Homo sapiens: one gene and its partners. The protein of the gene in region 1 interacts with the protein of each later gene in a pairwise test. Each region holds a gene or a part of one and is shown in the gene's direction. Other genes may lie near its edges.

The links. The genes of interacting proteins can lie anywhere in the genome.
Region 2: the proteins of UBE2K (region 1) and RNF182 interact in binary tests that used the Homo sapiens proteins (3 or more experiments, as listed by UniProt).
Region 3: the proteins of UBE2K (region 1) and CCNC interact in binary tests that used the Homo sapiens proteins (3 or more experiments, as listed by UniProt).
Region 4: the proteins of UBE2K (region 1) and TRAIP interact in binary tests that used the Homo sapiens proteins (3 or more experiments, as listed by UniProt).

Annotation. Positions count from the first base shown.
Region 1 is NC_000004.12:39,704,636-39,708,227, forward strand, and holds part of UBE2K (ubiquitin-conjugating enzyme E2 K), read left to right. Parts: intron 1-3,592. UniProt on the Homo sapiens protein: Accepts ubiquitin from the E1 complex and catalyzes its covalent attachment to other proteins. In vitro, in the presence or in the absence of BRCA1-BARD1 E3 ubiquitin-protein ligase complex, catalyzes the synthesis of 'Lys-48'-linked polyubiquitin chains.
Region 2 is NC_000006.12:13,927,930-13,931,521, forward strand, and holds part of RNF182 (E3 ubiquitin-protein ligase RNF182), read left to right. Parts: intron 1-3,592. UniProt on the Homo sapiens protein: E3 ubiquitin-protein ligase that mediates the ubiquitination of ATP6V0C and targets it to degradation via the ubiquitin-proteasome pathway.
Region 3 is NC_000006.12:99,551,591-99,555,182, reverse strand, and holds part of CCNC (cyclin-C), read left to right. Parts: intron 1-1,381; exon of another isoform or gene 1,382-3,287; coding exon 3,288-3,343; exon of another isoform or gene 3,344-3,592. UniProt on the Homo sapiens protein: Component of the Mediator complex, a coactivator involved in regulated gene transcription of nearly all RNA polymerase II-dependent genes.
Region 4 is NC_000003.12:49,846,495-49,850,086, reverse strand, and holds part of TRAIP (E3 ubiquitin-protein ligase TRAIP), read left to right. Parts: intron 1-1,886; coding exon 1,887-1,944; intron 1,945-2,478; coding exon 2,479-2,562; intron 2,563-3,592. UniProt on the Homo sapiens protein: E3 ubiquitin ligase required to protect genome stability in response to replication stress.

The DNA of each region.
Region 1 (3,592 bases):
GCTTAGATGATCCTCCTACCTCAGCCTTCCAAGTAGCAGGGACTAAAGGCGTCTGCCACCATGCCCAGCTAATTTATGTAATTTTTTGTAGAGACGGGGTTTCACCATGTTGCCCAGGCTGGTCTCGAACTCCTGGACTGAAGTGATCCTCCGGCCTTGGCCACCTGAAGTGCTGGGATTACAGACGTGAGCCACCATGCTTGGCCTGTCACCCCTTCTTAAAGACTATACACCTTTTTTTTTTTTTTTTTTTTTAGACGGAGTCTCCCTCTGTCGCCCAGGCTGGAGTGCAATGCGCCATCTCGGCTCACCGCAACCTCCGCCTCCCGGGTTCAAGCAATTCTCCTGTCTCAGCCTCCTGAGTAGCTGGGATTACAGGCATGTGCCAGCATGCATGGCTAATGTTTTTTTTTGTTTTTTTTTGTTTTTGTTTTTGTATTTTTAGTAGAGACGGGTTTTTACCGTATTGGCCAGGCTGGTCTCGAGCTCCTGACCTTGTGATCTGCCGCCTCGGCCTCCCAAAGTGCTGGGATTGCAGGCATGAGCCACTGCACCTGGGTTTTTTTTTTTTTTTTTTTGGGAGACAGAGTCTTGCTCTGTTGTCCAGGCTGGAGTATGGTGGCACGATCTCAACTCACCACAGCCTCTGCCTCCCGGGTTCAAGCGACTCTCGTGCCTCAGCCTCCTGAGTAGCTGGTATTACAGGCGCACCCCACCACGCCCAGCTAATATTTTGTATTGTTAGTAGAGACAGGGTTTTACCATGTTGGCCAGGCTGGTCTCGAACCCCTGACCTCAAGTGATCCAACTGCCTTGGCCTCCCAAAGTGCTGGGATTACAGGCGTGAGCCACCGTGCCCAGCCAAGACTATATACTCTTATTTCCCGTGAATACATTATTGACAGTTATTGAAAATATTGACTATAGCCCCAAAAGGCTTAACTGGTTAGAGATACAGGGCAGACAAAGGATAGATAAAAATGGTGGGGGCAAAGAGTAAATGCTATGGGATTCTAAAGGGTATCTGCATGAGAGAGATTCCTTTTTGTTGTTGTTTTGTTTTGTTTTTGTGACAGAGTCTCGGCTCTATCACCCAGCCTGGAGTGCAGTGGCTCCATCTCAGCTCACTGCAACCTCCGCCTCCCAGGTTCAACCAATACCTCAGCCTCTGGAATGGCTGGGATCCCGGGATTACAGGCATGCGCCACCACGCCCAGCTAATTTTTTTTTTTGAGACGGAGTCTCGCTTTGTCACCCAGGCTGGAGTGCAGTGGCGCGATCTCAGCTCACTGCAACCTCCGCCTCCCAGGTTCAACCAATACCTCAGCCTCTGGAATGGCTGGGATCCCGGGATTACAGGCATGCGCCACCATGCCCAGCTAATTTTCTTTTTTGAGACGGAGTCTCGCTCTGTCACCTAGGCTGGAGTGCAGTGGCGCTATCTCAGCTCACTGCAAGCTCCGCCTCTCAGGTTCATGCCATTCTCCTGCCTCAGCCTCCTGAGTAGCTGGGACTACAGGCGTCCACGACCACTCCCAGCTAATTTTTTGTATTTTTTTTTTAGTAGAGACGGGGTTTCACCGTGTTAGTCAGGATGGTCTCGATCTCCTGACCTCGTGATCTGCCTGCCTTGGCCTCCCAAAGTGCTGGGATTACAGGTGTGAACCACCCTGTCCGGCCACAATACCCAGCTAATTTTTGTAGTTTTAGTAGAGACAGGGTTTCATTGTATTGGCCAGGCTGGTCTTAAACTCGCGGCCTCAGATGATCTGCCTGCCTGGGCCTCCCAAAGTGCTTGGCTTAAATGGTGAGCCACCATGCCTGGCATGCCTGGACTTTTTTTTTTTTTTTTTCCCAGATGGAATCTCACTGTGTCACCCTGGCTGGAGTCCAGTAGCATGATCCAAGCTCACTGCAGCCACCACCTCCCAGGTCAAGCGGTTCTCCTGCCTCAGCCTACCAAGTAGCTGGGATTACAGGCGCGCCCCACCGCCCAGCCAATTTTTTATATTGTTAGTAGAGACAGGGTTTTATGATGTTGGCCAGGCTGGTCTCCCAAAGTGATAAGATTACAAGTGTGAGCCACAATGCCCAGCCAAGACTATATACTCTTATTTCCCAGTGAATACATTATTAACAGTTACCGAACATGTTGACCACAGCCCCAAAAGGCTTAATTGGTTGGAGATACAGGACAAAGGATAGATAAAAATGGGAGGGGCAAAGTGTAAATGCTATGGGATTCTGAGGGTATTTGAATGAGGGAGGTTCTTTTTTGTTTTTGTTTTGTTTTGAGTCAGAGTCTCTGTCACCCAGCCTGGAGTGCAGTGGCTTTATCTCGGCTCACTGCAGCCTCCGCCTCCTGGCTTCAAGTGATTCTCAGGCCTCAGCCTCCAGAATGGCTGGAATTACAGGCATGCGCCACCACACCCGGCTAATTTTTTTTGTATTTTTAGTAGAGACTGGATTTCACCATGTTGACCAGGCTGGTCTCACACTCCTGACCTCAGGTGATCTGGCTGTCTTGGCCTCCCAAAGTGCTGGGCTTACATGTGTGAGCCACCCCACCTGGAGTTTTTTTGTTTTGTTTTGTTTGAGATGGAATCTCACTCTCTCACCCAGGCTGGAGTGCGGTGACATGATCTTGGCTCACTGCAGCTTCTGCTTCCCAGGTCAGGCAGTTCTCCTGCTTGACCCAGTAGCTGGGATTACAGGCGCATGCCACCATACCCAGCTAATTTTCCTATTTTTAGTAGAGATGGGGTTTCTAGCCAGGCTGGTCTCGAACTTCAGACCTCAGGTGATCCGCCTGCCTTGGCTTCTCAAAGTGCTGGGATTACAGGCATGAGCCGTCGTGCCTGGCCTGTATGACTGTATGAGGGAGGTTCTTGAGCTAGGTGCCTTTTTTTTTTTTTTGAGATGGGGTCTCACTCTGTCGCCCAGGGGCACAATCATAGCTCATTGCAGCCTTGACCTCCTGGGTTCTAGCAGGCCTTCCACCTCAGCCTCCCGAGTAGCTGGGACTACAGGTGTGTGCCACCACACCTGGCTAATTTTTATTTTTTGTAGAGATGGGGTCTCATTGTGTTGCCCAGGTTGGTCTTGAACTCCTGGCTTCAAGCAGTCCTCCTGCCTCAGCCTCCCAAAGTGCTGGGATTATAGGCATGAGCCACCTCACCCAGCCTTCTTGAGCTGAGTTCTAGAGGAAAGTTAAGACTGACCTCAAATTTCAGGAGACAGTCCCAAAGGAATTCTGGTAATATTGCAATTTTTTTTTTCTGAGACAGTTTTGCTCTTGTTGCCCAGGCTGGAGTGCAGTGGCACAATCTCAGCTCATTGCAACCTCTGCCTCCCGGGTTCAAGCGATTCTCCTGCCTCAGTCTCCCGAGAAGCTGGGATTACAGGCATGCACCACCACGCTCAGCTAATTTTGTATTTTTAGTAGAGACCGGGTTTCTCCATGGTGGTCAGTCAGGCTGGTCTCGAACTCCGGGACTCAGGTGATCTGCCAGCCTTGGCCTCCCGAAGTGCTGGGATTGCAGGCGTGAGCCACCGCGCCTGGCCGAGATTCTTAAGTAAATGAACTTTTCTT
Region 2 (3,592 bases), on another chromosome or scaffold:
AATGCTGTAAATATCAGGTATTGTTAACTGACCTGCTGTGCACAGTGGGTATTTGTCAGAACTACTGTGCTGAGAAAAGGCACAGGAGACACATGGTCATGGTGATAGGTTGTGGTGTTTAGTGACATGGATTATTAATAGTGATTGATAGAAGCTGAAAAACTTTTGTGGACGTGTGTTTCATTTTTCATGTTTTCAATTAAAATGGAGATAAGATGTCTTAAGCTGTTTGGTAAGCCACAAGTGCTTGGGGAAAATGTATACTTTTATACAGTATTGTACATAATTTAAGTGATATAAACATAGTTCAAGATAAACGATTGTTTTCCTGATGTGCCAATTTTTTGTAGCAGTTATGGAGTATGGTTTTGGACATCAGTCATCAAATGTTTATCAAATGCTTCCTTCTATATATTCTATGTTGCTTGATGAAAGTCAACCAACCTCTTATAGTTGGGGACTTACTTGTTTCTCAGCTATTAGGATTATTTATTTTATATGTAATTCTTAATGTATGATACCCAAATACTCTCCTTTGTTTTCAGCCTTCCTTTTTTCAAAAGTTACCAGTTAATTTTGTAATGTTTTTTTAAAAAGTTTTATATTTCCAGAGCTTATTTTAAAAATGATTTGGTTAATTTGTAATTTGATCAGAAAATAGTGGGCATAAAAAACACATTATAATCTTTATATTTTGCATTTTGAGTATTTATAGACATGGTTTGTTGGATAGTAGAATCTGGGATCCTGTTAGGTGATTGCTTATTTCCATACATGTTTTGAACTTGATCCTTGCTTCTGTATCTTATAATCGGTTGAAGTGAAAACCAAAGAACTAGGAGGTAGAGGCAGCAGTGAGTTAAAAGGTGTTAAAGAGATCAATACATACTGAGAGTCTGCTGGCATAGTGGCCAAAGGTGGTGCAGGGGTGGGGGTGCGGTGGTGGTGGTTGGGAGGGCAGGGTCAGGGAGTCTGGGGCAGGAAGCTGGGGGACAGTGATGGCTCTAATAATCTCTTTTAACACTTTATGGTCCAGACTCTAAAGCAGATTACCTGAGGTCTTTACCTAGTGACCATTTCCAGAGGCTGGCTAGTCCTACAAAAGAGTTGCTGGTGCTGGTCCTGGTCACTTGCCTCCATTTTTCCTCCCAATTAACTAAAACGTGACTCTCTTGAATTGTGGTTTAAGTGCACTTTAAGCATTGTAAACCACAAATTAAGGCCCAATAATAAAATTTTTCCACATGAGAAATGTTATCTAATTGGTCAGGTACATGATTTAGATAATCAAGATGGCAATGGAACTATAAAATAAAACTGTGTGTTTGGCCAACATATTGTATTTGAGTGAGAAGTTGTGTTTCTGATCAGTCTGTTGTGAATCATCTTCCCTCTTCTATAGCTATAGTCATTCAAGGCAGACATGGTGTTTTACATAATTTGATCACCATGTGATGTGTTGGGCACAGTTATACTGAAGAATTGTTGTTTATTCAAACTCTTGAATTTTAAATCTACAATAAAAGGTTTCTGTGTGGTCTTCTCTGGCCTTTTTTCTTCCTGTATATTGGTTTACTGAGAACTTGTTTAGTCTGATTGCAGTAATTTTGACTTCCAGCTCTTCTCTGTCAATCAAACCTTTATGAATTCTTCCCTATGGGCCAGACACTTTTCTAAGCACTTCAGAAATATCAACTCATTTAATCCTCACAACAACCCTTTGAAGTAGGTACTATTATCCCTTTTTTATGAGTGAGGAAACTAATATGATCACTTTCTGTTACGTTAACCCAAAGGTACACAAAATATACCAGAATCCTGGCTTTATGTCAAGGAATGCAGCAAGCTTTATTTTCTGTTTACTGATATCTACTAAGTGTAGAAATAATGACACTAATTATTATGCTTGGGCTTTCCTCCCCCATCTTATTTTCTCTTTTTGCTAAAAAGAAACAAAACCTAAAGTCATAAAACAAGAAGCATTTCTTCATAGCATATTGTGACATGTACCAGTATTCTTTTCTGTACATAGAAACTAGAATAATTTATGAAAAAGATGTTTTCCAAAGGTAGTTGTTCCTTAATTTATTATTCGTATTCATATATTAAAAGAATATAGTCAGCCTTGCATATCTGCAGGTTCCACATCTGCAGATTCTATCAATTATGGATTGGAAATATTTGGAAAAATATTTGGAAAATATTCCAAAAAATAATTCAAATAAGAAACCCAGTCTAAGAACTATTTACATGGTATTTACATTGTATTAGGTATTATAAGCAATCTACAGATGATTTAAAGTACATGGCAGGATGTACATAGGTTATATGCAAATACTATGCCATGTTATACCAGGGACTTGAGCATCCTCAGATTTTGGTATCCTTGGGGGTCCTGGAGCCAGCCCCCCTGCAGATATTGAGGGGTGACTACATATTTTCTGTGGTATTGGCCTTGCTATATACATGTAAATCTATCTTGGAAATGTTGATCCATTTGCATTGCCTCACGGGGTTATCCTCAACCTGGGCTCACCTGCTCTTTCCTAGGCTACCTCTTACATGTGCTAAGGACTAAGTGATACTCCCTTCTCACTCCCTCCCAGTAGAACTCTGCATGTCCCTCCTCTGAAATAACACATGTTCTTACTGTCTCCATAGAAGAATGATTAAGCATTTTAATTTCAGGAGCTTATTTAAGCTATGTGAAAAGTAGGACTAAATAAGAGACAGGTGTTCATAAAAGCAAGTGAGTAAACATAGTTCTGTAGGTTCTTTTAATAGTAAATATTGTAATAACTACCATTTATTAAGCATTTACTTGGTGCCAGGTACGCTATTAAGTATTCCACACAAGCTGTCTCTTTTGATTGTCACCATAATTCTTGTTTCCTCATCTATAAAAGGCTAATAAATAGCTTATCCAAGATTGTACAGAGTTGGTAGATTTAAAAACATGATTTGTGTGGATAAACCACAATCTGAATTTGACTATGATTGCTTTGTTAATTACCAGCAGACAAAAAATGCCTTTCTGCTGCAGTGAAGATGCTTTTGGGATTATGTTACTTTGGAAAGAGTGGCAGTTGAGGACTGCCTGGTGGAGCAAATTCAGAGTGGCAGGTATGGCTGGCTGAGAAGGAGGAGGTAGTTCTCAGGAGGTAGCCAAGAAAAAGACATCGTTGTTCACAGTTATTGCTGCAGACCTCAGATGGGCTTTTAGAGTAGAAAGAGACAGAGAACCCCTATCCTCAAGTCTATTTTTGGAACAAAAACCAAAATTAAATGGAGTTATTTTCTGTCTCCTGAATTTGTGTTTTGTTTTATACTGTGTTCTGGATTGGAAATGAACAAGGACAAGGGCTACATGAGTGGTATAGGATGAAATGAAATGAAAAGTAACTCAATAAATGTCATATCCCCCAGGCTAAATTCCCTCAGGGTCAGAGCAACATGCTTTTTGCTACAGTGGGAGATTTCCTTGTTTTAGGATGCCGAAGGTCTGGAGTGTGGTATCAGGGATGAAGTTAGAAGTTTGGAAAGATGTTTTCATTTGGGTCATTCTCCTGCATGACATGGGGTTTTCCTGGAA
Region 3 (3,592 bases), on another chromosome or scaffold:
AAAGGCAAAAGGAACTACACATAAGCACTGTACTCTAGTTGATAAAGTTATTACCCATGGGTGTACAAGTTAACAATTCTGATAATGCTATACATGTATATGGGAATTAAACAATTACGTAAATCAATAGCAAATGTTTGAGAGCCGGGTTTCTCATTGTTGGAGCGGGAATTTACAGATAAGCAAAGGGCTGGAAACAGCATGAACTCGTGTACCTTAATACAATATAGATGGTTAGTTACATATAGAAATATTTATAGATAAGTGTATATACATGGGTTAGTGTGTGTATTTCTTGGCTTTCTCAGCTGAAAGGGTCTATAAGCAATGACATCCCAGTAGCAATGAGCTCACCTAGTACCCATATCTTGGTTTCTAATATCATTCTCCAATAAAAGGTACCAGGGCTCCTTGGAGAAATGGTTGATTCTAGGACTGGGGCAAGAAATACACAAGATGGACCTGGACCATCTCTTAATGCCAGTAATAAAGAAGTATTCAAAACAAACAAGAAAAACAAAAACGTCTATTGATGAGGATATGTCAAAAGGATATAGGAGCTAACTAAGAGAGCTCCCACTGACCAAAGCTGAAAGAATTTGAGCATCAAAATTTTAAAAATAGCATTGGATAATAACTCAAAGTATAAACTAAATATCCATGAGTCCATACTGATATAAATAAATGAGGGAGAAGAGACATGTCTTCCATGCTGAAGAATTCCAAATAATATATGTAACTATTCTGCCCTCAAGTAGAGGGAGCATAACTCCCCACTCCTAAGGTGCTGGCTATACATGTTAACTTCCTGCTAGTGTGTACATATGGAAAGGGAGGAAAAAGGTAACTTTACAGTGGGGAAACCTGAGAAATACTGCCTTAGCCAGGCGATCAAGGTCAGTAGCAACAGTGATAAATCACATTAATATCATGTATCATTGATGTGATATGATGAAGATGGTACTTTATCTCGGTGGTCTTCCTGTCAAAAACCCATTTTCTCTAGTCTAATGAGAAAAACATCAGACAAATTCCAGTAGAGGGGCATTTGACAAAATACTTGACTGGTACTCCTAAAAACTGTCAAAGTCATCAAAAACAAGGAAAGGCTAGAAAACTGTCACAGCCAAACAGTCTAAGGAAACATGACAAATAAATATAATGTGGTATCCTAGATAAGACCCTAGGATAGAAAAAGGACATTGGTACAAACTAAGGAGATCTGAAAAAAGTACAGTTTAGTTAATAATAACATTTCAATATTGGGTCAGTAATTGTAACAAATGCGCCATACTAATGTAAGATGTTAATAGTAGGGGAAGCTGGGTGAAGGCATGTCTTAGTCCACTTGGGCTAATATAAGAAAGTACCATAGACTGGGTGGCTTTCACAACAGACATTTATTTCTCACAGTTCTGGAGGCTGGGAAGTCAATAACGGTGGGTATAAGAGAACTGTGCATGATCTCAGTGTTTGAGTCTACAAAAATAAAAGGCAGAGGAATATAATTAGGTAGAGTTTGTTTTGCTTTTTTCAAGGGAAATTTGAGCATATTAGTATGTGATGGAAGATTTACTGAAGGAGGAAGGTTAAAGATGAAAAAAATAGCAGGAGTTATCAATTGAATAGATGATAATAAGTGTATAAGTGGTAAGACAAACAATAGAGAGGAGGGATGTATTTTTCTCCAAGTTGGAGGAAAAGGATTAAAAGACAGAAAAAAATGCAGAGCAGTTTTAGCATGGAGTAACAGACATGTGACAGTATCAGGTAAATATATTCTCAATAGAGGTGTTAGGTGTCAAGGTCCAGGGGATGGGGATGTAGATTTGTTTTATATACAGAGATAATTTTACTTTGTTGATTGTCTACCATTATATAAGAACCTGTTGTGCTGGTATACTTTACATCACAAGGATTTGTAAAACTCAGAAACCTTAATAGGTACGTCTTAAATTTAAATAAAGGAGAGAAGAAAGGAAAGATTATAAATTTACTAATGTCAAGTTTAAATTATTCTAGGTTTCAAATCCTGGCAGATATTACACATCTAAATTAGCTGTAGGGCACTGAATTTGCAAAACAAATCTTTTTGAAAACATAGTGCATAGAAGAAATGGAATTTCTTTCTTTTTTTTTTTTTGAGATGGAGTCTCACTGTCACCCAGACTGGAGTGCAGTGGTGTGTTCTCAGCTCACTGCACCCTCTGCCTCCCGGGTTCAAGGGATTCTCCTGCCTCGGCCTCCCGAGTAGCCGGGACTACAGGTGCATGCCACTACACTCGCCTAATTTTTGTATTTTTAGTAGAGATGGGGTTTCACCATGTTGTCCAGGAGGTCTCGAACTCCTGACCTCAGGTGATCCACCCACCTTGGCCTCCCAAAGTGCTGGGATTACAGGCATGAGCCACTGTGCCTGGCCAGAAATGGAATTTCTTTTAATTTCAGTGAAATCACTTGGGCTTTGTACAAATGGAAGCTGACACTAAACATTTTTTAGGACCTGTCAGTAGTTACTTGGTTGAATTAAATGTGTCATAATGGCTTGAATACAGTTTCTCAAATAGTACTTATGTGTATATGCTCACACCATTTTAAGGAGATGGGGGATTGATGGTTAACATTTTTTTTTCATTTGTACTTTATTTAGTGACTAACCAATAAAGTAATAGATAATAGAGTACTAACTTTATGTGTTACTACTACTACTTTATGAGTAACTCGAGACCTTTGCATATATATTAATGCTTTTATTAAAATATATATTTTGATAAATACCTGGTCATTGTAAAAAGTTTAGAAAGTGCAGATTAGTAAAAAGTTCTTAAATCTCACAAATAACCACTGTTAACATTTTTTTGGTGTACTATCCTCCCAATATTTTATATGTATATTTTTTACCAATTGTATATATTGTAAACACATATGTAACCCCTGTGTTCCTTCTAAGCTCAGTCACTGGAAAACAGAAGAATACCATTCTGTAGCTGAAAAGATTTTAGAAATGATAAAAGCCAGTGATTTTTTTTTCCTGATCTTTTTCTTTTTTAAACATCAGAATCCTTTCTTAAGGTAGTAAATATAAAATTGAAGCTGTGTAGAGTGTCCTGCCCCCCAGTCTTTCCCCTTCCCTGAAAGTAAATAAAAATCTGCGTCCGTAAGTGTTGCCAAGAATTCCTACTGAAAATAATTTTGCTCTACCCTCTAATATTCTGCTCTGTTAAAGGAATTTTGAGTTAATTTATTTCCCATTTTCTCAGTTTAAATTTTTTTTTTATTTTCTGCAGTAAAAACTAGATTTTCATATGCCTTTCCAAAGGAATTTCCTTATAGGATGAATCATGTAAGTATATGATATAAAATGGAACAATTATCAAAGCTATATATAAACTAGCTCTATTTTATATTAGACTAAATTTAATAGTTTCCTAGAAATGGCAGTTTCAAATATTACATAAATACAGACATTATTCTAAATTAAAGCTAAATAGCTTTTACCATTTAAAAAAAATACTTCATAGTGGCGATTATCAACCCTGGCTGCTCATTAAATCACCTTGGGAACTTGTAAATAATACTGATGTTGGATCCT
Region 4 (3,592 bases), on another chromosome or scaffold:
TGTGTAGTATTCCACTGCGCCTGGTTACTCTTGATTATATGTTGTACATGGTATTTGAAAACTTATGGGAATTTTAGCTGGGCATGGTGGTGCACGCCTGTGGTCCCAGCTACTCGGGAGGCTGAGGTGGGAGGATTGCTCGAGCCTGGGAGGCGAAGGTTGCAGTAAGCCAAGATCACACCACTGCGCTCCAGCCTGGGTGACAGATTGAGACCCCATCTCAAAAAAAAAAAAAAAAAAAAAAAAGAAAAGAAAAGAAAATGTACTTATAGGAATCTTTGAGGCCAGGATGATGGTATCATTTTCCAGAGAGGACTTAGTTTCTCCCTGGTCCCTAGGAGTAGGGGAGTCTACTAGTAGGAGACTAATTAAAGTTTAAGGCTTGAGCTTTGCTGGACCACCTGCATAGATGATGCAAAGCTCAGCTGTGTTTTGCTTTTACCACTACTTACTTTTTTTTTTGAGATGGAGTCTCGCTCTGTCGCCCAGGCTGGAGTGTAGTGGCACAATCTCAGCTCACTGCAATCTCCGCCTCCCAGGTTCACACCATTCTCCTGCCTCAGCCTCCCGAGTAGCTGGGACTACAGGTGCCTGCCACCACGTCCGGCTAATGTTTTGTATTTTTAGTAGAGATGGAGTTTCACCATGTTAGTCAGGATGGTCTCAATCTCCTGACCTTGTGATCTGCCCGCCTCGGCCTCCCAAAGTGCTGGGATTACAGGCGTGAGCCACTGCGCCCGGCCACTCTTTTTTTTTTTTAATTAAAAAAATTTTTTTGATTGGGCACAGTGGCTTATACCAATAGTTCCAGCACTTTGGGAGGCTGAGGTGGGAGGAGCACTTAAGCTCAGGAGTTGAGACCAGCTTGGGCAGCACAGTGAGACCCTGCCTCTATTCTGTAAAAAACAAAAAAACAAAAAATTTAATTTAAAAAAATTTTATGGCTGGGTATGGTGGCTCATACCTGTAATCCCAGCACTTTGGGAGGCTGAGGCAGGTGGATCACTTGAGGTCAGGAGTTCAAGACCAGCCTGGCCAACATGGTGAAACCCTGTCTCTACTAAAAACAAAAATTAGCTGGGCGTGGTCGCGCATGCCTGTAATCCCAGCTACCTGGGAGGCTGAGGTAGGAGAATCGTTTGAACCAAGGAGGCGGAGTTTGCAGTGAACCAAGATCGTGCCACTGCACTCCAGCCTGGGCGACAGAGCAAGACTCCACCTCAAAAAAAAAAAAAAAGTTATGAGTACATAGTAGGTATACATATTTATTGGGTTTATGAGATATTTTGATGCAGGGATACACTGTAATAATCACTTCAGGGTAAACAGAGTAGCCATCACCTCAAGCATTTATCATTTTTTTGTGTTACAAACATTCCTATTCTTTTAGTTACTTTAAAATGTACAGTAGATTATTGTTGACTGTAGTCACTCTGTTGTGCTATCAAATACTAGATTTTATTCCTTATATCTAACTTTATTTTTGTACCCTTACTTACTTTTATTTCTGGTTGATCCTTACCTTGAAAGTGTAGTCTTTGGGATTCCAGCTTAAAATGGGGGTGTTATCAGAGTCCTCATCTCTGAGGGCCCCTGAGCTTCGACTATCATCTCTCCCAACCCCAGTCAAAGCCCAGAATGTTGCCTAAAGGACAGCTTTTGGCCAAGCCAACAGGGCCAAAAAAAGGGCCAGCTGGTTGGAGTCCTGAGTACCCATCAGGCCTTGCGGGAGGTGCTGTAACTGCCTATGCTACTGTCCTCTTATTTGGGCAGGCATTGGGTCAAGGAGGAGCAGAACAGACCCTTTCGTGGTCAGAATGTTTGCCTGGCTTATGTCCCCAGACAAACCAGGGCTCATCAGTCTATTGTTCTGCTTTTCATTCCAGCCTAATTCAGTGGTTTGAGACAGCACCAAGTCGGACCTGCCCACAGTGCCGAATCCAGGTGAGAGTATTGGGGTGGGACCACCTCAACTGAAGAGATCTCCTTAGCAGAGAGCAGGAATGTGAAAAGAGCTCTGAAACTGCAATATCTCTGACCTTTTTTGGACCCTCCTGGTTTAAGGCCAGTTGAGCCTCACTTGTGCCCTTGAGTGTTTGGGAGGTCTGCTTACACCCACAGGTAGCTGGCAGATGGACTTGTTGCCTGGGCCAGTTTTCACTTGGGTAGATTTGGCTGGCCTCCTTCCCTGTCTTTTCATCAGTGACTCCGCACCTAGAGTTCAGGTATCTTTTGAGCACTTAACCGTGTAGGTCTGTAGTAATATGACTTCAGTGACCACGAAACCAGCAGCCCCAACTTGGGGTACCTGCAGGAGTAAAGAGGTCTTTTGACTCTAAAGGATGTACTTTGAAAAATTAGGTCTGAGAACAGGCCTGACATGCATGTCAGGCAGGTAGTCAGACCCATGTACAACACTCTCCTCCTTGCGCATGACCCAGCTACACAATCATACTCTTACCTTGTTCTCCCATCCAGGTTGGCAAAAGAACCATTATCAATAAGCTCTTCTTTGATCTTGCCCAGGAGGAGGAGAATGTCTTGGATGCAGAATTCTTAAAGGTACCCAGAATTTATCTGATTCTACTGAACTCCAAGCCTTGTGCGAGTTCACTTTTCTTTTTTCTTTTCTTTTCTTTTTTCTCTTCTCTTCTCTTCTCTTCTCTTTTCTCTTTTCTTTTCTTTTCTTTTCTTTTCTTTTTTTAGAGACAGGGTCTTACTTTGTTGCCCACACTGGAGTGCAGTGGTGCAATCATAGCTCACTATAACCTCAAACTCCTGAGTTCAAGGGATCTCCCCACCTCAGCCTACCTAGTAGCTAGGACTGTAGGGGTGCACCACCATGCTCGGTTAATTTTTTTATTTTATTTATTTATTTATTTATTTATTTATTTATTTATTTATTTTGAGATGAAGTCTCACTCTGTCACCCAGGCTGGAGTGTAGTGGCGTGATCTTGGCTCACTGCAACCTCTGCCTCCTAGGTTAAAACAATTCTCCTGCTTCAGCCTCCCGAGTAGCTGGGACTACAGGCACGTGCCACCATACCCGGCTAGTTTTGTGTTTTTAGTACAGACGGGGTTTCACCTTGTTGGCCAGGCTGGTCTCGAACTCCTGACCTGAAGTGATCCACCCACCTCGGCCTCCCAAAGTGCTGAGATTGCAGGCGTGGGCCACCGTGCCCAGCCCTAATTTATAAAAAAAAATTTTTATAGAGATAGGGCCTTGCTATGTTACCCAGGCTGGTCTTGAACTCTTGGGCTCGAGCAATCCTCCCACCTTGGCCTCCCAAAGGGCTGAGATTACAGGCATGAGCCACTGTGCCTGGCCTGGGAGTTCACTTTCTATTTCCACATAAGTGGAGGGTTCCTGGAATATGGAGATGAAGTTATAGAGGTGAGACTTGGTACAGTTTTCAAGGTGGGGACACAAAAATCAGAGGACAACTGATGAGACACAGTCATCAGAGAAATGCACTGTGAGGGAAGAGGGGAGCTGCTTGACTGTAAACCCTCCCTTTGGGATTTCAGGTCAATTCCAACCTGAATTCTCTCCTGCGGTCTTGTCTCCTCATCTTTTAAAGAACCTACAG